Linked DNA regions of Homo sapiens: regions 1 and 3 are each linked to region 2. Evidence: fine-mapped expression QTL. A gene starts in region 2. Each other region holds a variant in brackets. All regions are shown on one strand. Distances are between the middles of the regions. Region 1 has its middle 36 kb from the start of DDX18. Region 2 holds the start of DDX18 (DEAD-box helicase 18). Region 3 has its middle 28 kb from the start of DDX18.

Region 1 (2,765 bases), 36 kb before region 2:
AACATCTAAATGTTTTCACTAACTCCTCCTGAGTCAGGGATTCTCAACCTAAGCACTATGGAGATTTTGGGCTGAATAATTCTTTGTTGGGGGTGGGGTGGGTGCTATCAAGTATGTGGTAGGATGTTTAGCAGCTTCTTTGTTCTTTACTCCCTGGATGCCAGTAGCCACCACCGACCCCACCAGTTATCTCCTGGGAGCAGAATCAACCCAGTTGAGAACCATTGATCTAGATAATTCAGATGTCTCTAGCAGGCATTTCCTCTCTTAAACATCCCGTTCAACCAGGAAGTGTTAGTCCTGCCAGGTTTCCCTCCTGTGGTTTCCCAGAGAAAGGTCTGCAGCACTGGCACAGCCCTTGCCTTAGTGCTCTATGTGATAATCAATGTTTTTCACAAGGAATCAGAGAAAACCGCCAGACACTGGATATGGCTGTTCCAAATGACCAATATTGGAAGGGTTAAACATCTCAACACAAAGGTCCTTGAGGATTTCTCTCCACCTTCAAGTTTGAGACTCAACTCCTCAGACCTCACATTCCAGCCCATCTCCAGGGTATCTGGTACCCAGAATGTCTACTCCCATCAGAAACAAAGGATCCTTCTAAGGCCTTGCCTTAGTCCTTCTCCTCACCTAAACAGTGCAAAACCCCCAAAAGAGGGAACTTTCCTGAGGTCAGAGTTATTAAATCTGCCAGGATACCTGGTGTGAAGTTTAAAAAAGAGAGCATGTCATGAAGACATGCCACCTCATCCTTCCTGCTCCCTTCATAGCTTCATTCTGCTCCTAACCACACAGACGGGTGAGTTCCTGAACAAGAAAGTCGGTGTGCACACACCAACACACATGCACACACACACACCCCTCTGGGAAACAAGCAAAATTTTTTTAGGGATAGTCTAAATCCACATTTAGAGAAATTTTTTTCCCCTAAAGGGAATGTGATGAACAGAGAAGCCTGCCACATATAGGGAAATGCTCTTTTATGGGGCCAAGCAGCCCTGTTTCCCTCCTTGTTGCTCCTAAACCTCTCTGTTCCAGAAGGGATTGCTGCTTTACTTTGGCATTACCAAAAGGCTTAGACAAAGAAATTGCTTGACATCACAGGTGAAATTCAGACCTCTGCCTCCAGAGAAACTGAAAAAGTGCCTGCAACTTTAGCCATCTTTCTTCCTCACCCACTGCTTGTCTCCACCA[G/A]GATTTTAGAAAATCATATGGAGAAAATAAAGTTATATACACAAAAAATCCTGCACATCGTTGTTTGTAGCATATTTATTCATAATTGCGTACTTGCCAAAACTGGGAAGCAACCAAGAATAAAGCCAAAATCATTTGATCTAGTCCCAGTCAGGTACCCCATTATATCTGCAGTTGGAAATAAATGGATGTGCATCCTCTATACATTAATATATGCCATAATGTTATCTGCCTTCATAAAACTGTTTTAACCTCTGATTATGTTTTACACTGAAATACAATAATTAAAGGCACACTCCTTTCCTATGTTATAAACTACTATTGTTGGTACTCAACCAAAATGAAGAGTTTTGCTCTATGTGTGGAAACGGATCTGGGCTTGATGTTGGTCCCAGCCTCCTCAGTGCTGCGGATTTGCTTTAGAATAAAAGTGGGTGGAAATCATTTCTCCAGATAAGCAATGGGCTTATCTCCAGCCCACTATCAAAGCAGTGTTAAGGATCAGTTGGAGACAGGGAAAAGAAAACAGGTTCAAGGAAACATCGAGGCATAATTGGCATTTGTTTTCCTACTGTGTGTGGGTGTTGAAGCTAATTTGTTTGCAGGAACGTGGGGAAAGATAGTGCCTTAGAGTAGTTGTTCCTCCTACTACTCTTGGAGTTTTAATTAGCAGATGGGCTCCTTCCCCCACCACCTGCCAGCTGCTTTCTTTTCACATGACCAAAGGTAGTTTTTAAAAATTTCCATGCATTCAAACCTCAGCTCTTAAAAATGCCCTTTTTCTCATGAAAAGATCTCTAATGAAGACTCTGGGTCAAGAATGAAAAGTTTCCCAGAGTCAACAATGATAATAAAGACCACCCAATAACTGCAAGAATCCTGTACAAACAGGTCACATCCCATGGGCGGGGACTCCGCTGGGTTTGAAATTCTCACTGGCTCATCTTTCCACCTGTTGTGCTCTCCTCCCTCCCTCATCAGGAGGGGTGAGGGGATAGAAGCAGGATCAGGTGGGGAGGGAGAGGGAGCACGTGGAGGAGAGTGTGTGTCTCAGCTGATCTCTTCTGCATTTTAAGCTGCTCGTAGGAAGGCGAAATTGGAAAGGAGGGCTGTAATGAGGTCGAGAATTACCCACATTCCCCCTGCAGGCTAATTTACTCCCCTACTCAGAGCTGCGTGAAGTTCAGGGTAGCCAGGACCAGGGGATTTAGCCCCAGAGCCTGTAACTGAACCATCAGCCCTGGAATAACCAGTAGTTGCAATTTCTAACTAACTTCGGAGAAGCAAAATAAAAAAGTGCTTAAAAACCAAAATGATTAAAAGAACCCCAAGGCTCGTAATTTGGAAATGTCAATTAGGAAACACATCATTGAGAAAAGTATAGATTAGAAAAATAAATCAAGACAAGATGATACTTATAAGTTTAATGTCTAGATTAATAGGATGACAATAGAGGGCCATAAAGAAATATCTTACCCATGCATTGCTTGTCAGTGAATGATAGCTATAAGGTTTTAGAGAAAAGCATGAAATATTTTGAAAAATGCATGAGTTTAAGTATAGATTCT
Region 2 (2,765 bases):
AGGATGACAGCTTACGAGCAACAGGCTATATCATGTAGCCTGGGTGTGTAGTAGATTTAGGTTTGTGTAACTAGATAAAGTTCGCAAAACGACAAAAGCCCCTAATGACACATTTCTCACAATGTATCCCCCCTCCTGTTATGCGATGCATGACTGTACCTGAGAATGTCCTTACCAAAGGTTCCCTGTTTGTTTACTGAAAAAGATAAAACACCATCTTTTGTTCAAATTTACTTACATATGCGCTGAAAAGTAGTAATGCTGTAGTATTATTCTATAGGAATTAGAAATACAAGAGTATTTCAAAACATATTCCTAAAATTCACAAACCTATTGCCTCCTGCAGAATTTTTTTTCAATTAATGTCTGTTGAAAACCAACTGGGGCAAGGCACTGTGCCTCCAAACTTTCCCTCGGGGAGTTTGTATCTTAACCTGGACAACAGGTTAACACAATTACTTCAAGATCTGTGGCCCCACTGTCAGGACACTGGGACTGCAAATGAGGTAGGTAAGAAAGGTGACATTCAGATAAAATCCTTTTCATTTAGGTCACTGTGCGGGACACAAATACGTAGAAGCTCTGGTGAGAAAGTGCTACGAGAACGTGTGGAAGTGGGTAGAGGAAGGCAATAGTATCAAAGAAGCTCTGTGGAAACAGCCAGACGGGCTTTTGGGGAAAGAAATACGGGAATTAAATAGATGTGAAAAGTGGGTGGAAATGAGACGTTTCATGCAGCATAACCGGAAATGAGGGATGAGGTGAGGTGCGACTTGCAGGTGGTGAGGGAACCAAAAGCTAAGGTGGAAATGCAAAAGGCAGGGTTAGTCGTAAGCCTAGAAGTGAACGGGGAGTCCTCCCGCTCTAACGTTGTAAGAAGACACTGATTGCTCAGAAAGGTCAGGAGCAGCGCTGGAGCCACGCGACGAGTGGGCAGCAGCGCGGGTCCCGAGTGGAAGCTGCCTTTTCACTCTCCCCAATCACACACGCTGCAGGGGAAGCTGCCTCCGTCACACAGAGCAGCTGGGCCCCCGGCCGCCCGAACGCGCCAGGGCTCGCGCGTGGGTCTTCTGAGCCACCGCGAGTCAACGCATCTCACCCTGAAACTTTAGGTTCCGCTGCCGCAATTTGAGGTTCCGCTTCTCGATCTTCTTACGCAGGAGTTTCATCGGCAGGTGTGACATTCTGCCCAACAAGTGCCTAGAATAAGGCGCCACACAGTACAGCTACTCAGTTCTCAGGCTGACGTTACTTCCCTTCCGGCCGCACGTGCGCAGCTCGGCCAACAGGAAACGCGTCACAGGAACGCTGGCACCCGGCGGAACGAAAATGCTCCAGAGCGGAAATGCTTCCAGACGCGCGCACCGTGATATCTTTGGCGACCAAAATCTTTGCAGCGCCCCCTGGAGAAGTGGAAGCGAGACGCTGCACTGGCTTCACACTGTGCTAAAGCTAACTTGAGCTCCCCCTAGAGGAAGACTGAAGAAAGAACGTGGAGGGGAAGGAGGCCTTAGGGAGTCCGCATTTTTATGTTCCTATCCTCTGTGGGTGCAGAACTAGAGTTGGCCCTCCCTGTACCTGAATTCCCTGTCTGTGGATTCAACCAACTCCCCCATTGAAAACATTAAAAAAAAAACAATTAAAAATAATACAGTGTGATAACTACTTTCATAGCATTTAGGTTGTATAAGGTATTATAAGTCATTTAGAAATGATTTAAAGTATACAGGATGTTGTGTGTAAAATAAATGCAAATATTACACTATTGTATATAAGGGTTTTGAGTATCCTAAGATATTGGTACCCATAGAGGGTCCTGGACTCAATCCCTTGTGGATACTGAGGGACAACTGTATTTGGGAAACTGAATAGAACTAAATTATATATATGCATTTCCAAACTTGTTTGGCCACTCTCCTCAGAAATACAATTTCTGTGTCACTTGGTACACATACACACATAAATATAACATTTCTCAAAATAATATTCTTGCTTTTCACTCTTTTTCCTTCAATTCCATTCATTCCATCCTAAATTATTCTTTTTAGCTTACTAAAAATACTGATTCCTATGAATTTAAATTAACTTTACTACATTAATAATAGGTTGACTGCAGTTTGAAAAAGAGGTTTATATATTCCTTAAGTATACCCAAGGACCCTTCAGCAGTCCAGGACAGAAATTGCAATGTGGCTAGCTAATAGTCATCTCTTTTTTGGGATGGGGAGGAAGACAGGGGTATGCATATAGTATTTAATTTTTAAAAAAATTGTTATCAACATTAAAATACTTGGAGATTTCCATAAAAATTCATATTTGTCTTTAAAAATTGGCCCAATGCCCTCAAATTCCCCTTAACAGTAATCAATTTGAGCTGAACAACTGGAAGAGTCCATGAAACCTGGATTAATTTGTTTACTTGGAGGGGCAGAACATGAGACCCTGGAGATTAGACCTGATCATAGTGAGGAACAGAGAGGGAGAAAACTTGGGAGGGAGTTTAAACAGAATGTGAAGGAATTGACTTCGAAATCACATTGGATTGGACTGGAAAACTAAGACAAACAAATAATAATGTGCTTAGATTAATTTGTTAATGATCAGGCAGGCTGAAGAATGATTCAGAAATGTAAGAGCGCACACACACACGCAAACATTTATCTCAGTGTAAATATATATGCCAGTTTAAATTTATGCATATATCAGTATATATATGCATATACACATATGTATCTATTTCTATAGCTCTATGTACATACATATAT
Region 3 (2,765 bases), 28 kb before region 2:
GTGAAACGCCGTCTCTACTAAAAACACAAAAAATTAGCCAGGAATGGCAGTGTGCACCTGTAGTCCCAGCTACTCGGGAGGCTGAAGCAGGAGAATTGCTTGAACCCAGGAGGCAGAGGTTGCAGTGAGCTGAGATCGCACCACTGCACTCCAGCCTGGGTGACAGAGCGAGACTCTGTCTCCAAAAAAAATAAAAAAATAAAATAAAACAAGTTGTACTTGCATGTAGAAAAAGCATTTGACAATTTCAACATCAGTTGAAGACAAAATATCCAAGAAACTAGGATTAAAAGGGAACTTCCAGTTGGGTATGGTGATGGCTCATAATCTCAGCACTTTGGGAGGCTGAGGTGGGCGGATTGCTTGAGCCCAGGAGTTTGAGACCAGCCTGGCCAACATGGCAAAACCCTGTCTCTACTAAAAATACAAAAATTAGCCAGGTATGGTGGCCCATGCCTGTAATCCCAGCTACTTGGGAGGCTGAGGCACGAGAATCGCTTGAACCTGGGAGGTGGAGGTTGCAGTGAGCCAAGGTCACACCACTGCACCCCAGCCTGGGTGACAGAGTGAGACTGTCTCAAAAAAAAAAAAAAGAAAAGAAAAAAAGAAAAAAAAAATGTTGGGGGGACCTTCCTCAACATGATACAGGACCATCATCGTATATGGAAAGCCAGAGCTGACATAATATGCAATGGTGAAAGACTGAAAGCTTTCTCTCTAAGACTAGGAAGAAGACCAGGATGCCCACTTTTGCCAGTTCGGTTAAGCATAGTTCTAGCCACAGCAATTAAGCAAGAAATAGAAATAAAAGGCATCCAAATTGGGAAGAAAGAAGTAAAACTATATTTGCAGATGACATGATATTATATATAGAAAACCCTAAGGAATCCACAAAAAATTGTTAGAGCTAATTAATTCAACAAAGTTGCAGGATACAAGATCCACACTTAAAAATGAGTTGTATTTCTATACACAAACAATGAATGATTCAAAATAAAACTAAGAAACAATTCTACTTACAATACCATTAAAAAGTATAAAATACATAGGAATGAATTTAACCAAAAAGTTGCAAAGCTGGTAAATGAAAACTAAAAAACATCACTGAAAGAAATTTTAAAAGAACTAAATAAATGAAAAGACATGCC[A/G]TATTCATACATTGAAAGACAACATTATATTATTAAGGTATCATTACTTCTCAAAGCAATCTATAGATTTAATGCAATCCATATCAAAATCACAACAGCCTTTTTTTTTCAGAAATAGAAAACTCAGTCCTAAAATTTATATGGAATCTCAAGAACCTGGAATAGCCAAAACAATTTTGAGAAAAGAATAAAGTTGAATGACTCATAATTCACAGGATCAAAACTGACTGCAAAGCTACAGTAATCAAAAAAGTGTGGTTCTGGCATCAGGATACACATATACACCAATGGAACAGAATTGAGAGTTCATAAATAAATTCATATATCAATGGTCAATTGATTTTTGAACAGTGCCAAGACCATTCTATGGGAAAAGGAACACTCTCTTCAACAAATTGTTCTGGAACATCCGCATGTAAAAGAAAGATGTTGAATCCTTATCTCATACCTAATGCAAACATTAACTCAAAATCTATCAAAGACTGAAAGTTAAGAGCTAAAAATATAAAACTCTTAGGAGACAACATAGAGGAAACTCTTCAGAGCAGTAGCTTGTGCACTGGTTTCTTAACTATGACACCGAAGGCACAAGCAACAAAAGAAAACAATGGATAAATTGGGCTTGTCAAAATTTGAAACTTGTGCATCAAAGGACAAGTTGACAAGTTGTGCACTACTAAGAAAGTGAAGACAACCCACAGAATGGGAGAAAATATTTGCAAATTATATATTTGATAAGAGTCTAGTATCCAACATATGTGAAGAACTTTTTCAACTCAGCAATTTAAATTTCCCAATTTTTAAAAGGGCAAAGGATCTGAAAAGATATTTCTCTAAAGAAGATATACAAATGGCCAACAAACACCTAAAAAGATGCTAAGTGATATGAGTCATTAGGAAAATGTAATCAAAACCATAATGAGATATTATTTTATACCCACCAGGATGGCTATAAGAAAAATGAAAAATATAAATAACAAGTGTTAGCAAGGAGGCAAAAAACTTGCAGCTCTCATGAAATGTAATAAATAATGGTGCAGCTGCTGTGCAAAGCTGGCAGTTTCTTAATAAGCTAATCGTAGAATTACGACCAGCAATTCCACTTACTTGTATTTCAGGATTCAAGGTGACACTTTGTCACCGACTTTTGTTGTCCATGGCTTTTCAGTTTGGTTGCTCTGTTTTCACATGGGCACTCTGGAAGATCCAAACATTATTCTGGTATCGCTGTTACCATCTTCCTAGGCCTCCTGTTGGAGAGCTTTGTGAAATACCCCTTTTTGATATGCATTTCAAATGTTTCCCCAGTTTACATTTGTCTTTTGTCATTTAAGCAGCTTGGATGGGGGACTTGGATATCAGGAGATGGGGGAATTTGGGGACCATGGGTGGCTTCTCACATTGCGTCCTGTGTGAGCTGGCAGCAGCACTTCCTAATCACCCAGGGAGTCCGTCTTATCCCCCTCTTCACAGCCCTGAGGCTCCATAAAGTGATTAGACTTTCTCAGGTTGTTATTAGTATTTTTCTCCTGGGCTTCCTCAATAGTACAATTCAGTTCACCTATTGCTCAGAAAATATTGCTATGGTAACCTATTCTGGCAAGTAAAGCAATTACC

Evidence for each region. PIP is the estimated chance that this variant, and not a neighbour inherited with it, causes the effect.
Region 1: its variant is fine-mapped to the expression of DDX18 in tibial artery (GTEx, PIP 0.93).
Region 3: its variant is fine-mapped to the expression of DDX18 in blood mononuclear cells (TOPMed, PIP above 0.99). The same link has a PIP of 0.9 or more in hypothalamus.

Annotation. Positions count from the first base shown.
Region 1 is chr2:117,849,626-117,852,390 of GRCh38, reverse strand. No RefSeq gene overlaps it. Among named protein-coding and RNA genes, the nearest start is that of DDX18, 36 kb to the right of the region's middle. The variant G/A (reference allele first, on the strand shown) is at 1,198.
Region 2 is chr2:117,813,197-117,815,961 of GRCh38, reverse strand. DDX18 (DEAD-box helicase 18) reads right to left here and starts at 1,271. Exons shown (of 14, transcript NM_006773.4): 1 at 1,100-1,271. The coding sequence starts at 1,184. RefSeq lists enhancers at 414-949, 1,025-1,074, 1,095-1,144, 1,275-1,404, 950-1,487 and 1 more.
Region 3 is chr2:117,841,692-117,844,456 of GRCh38, reverse strand. No RefSeq gene overlaps it. Among named protein-coding and RNA genes, the nearest start is that of DDX18, 28 kb to the right of the region's middle. The variant A/G (reference allele first, on the strand shown) is at 1,149.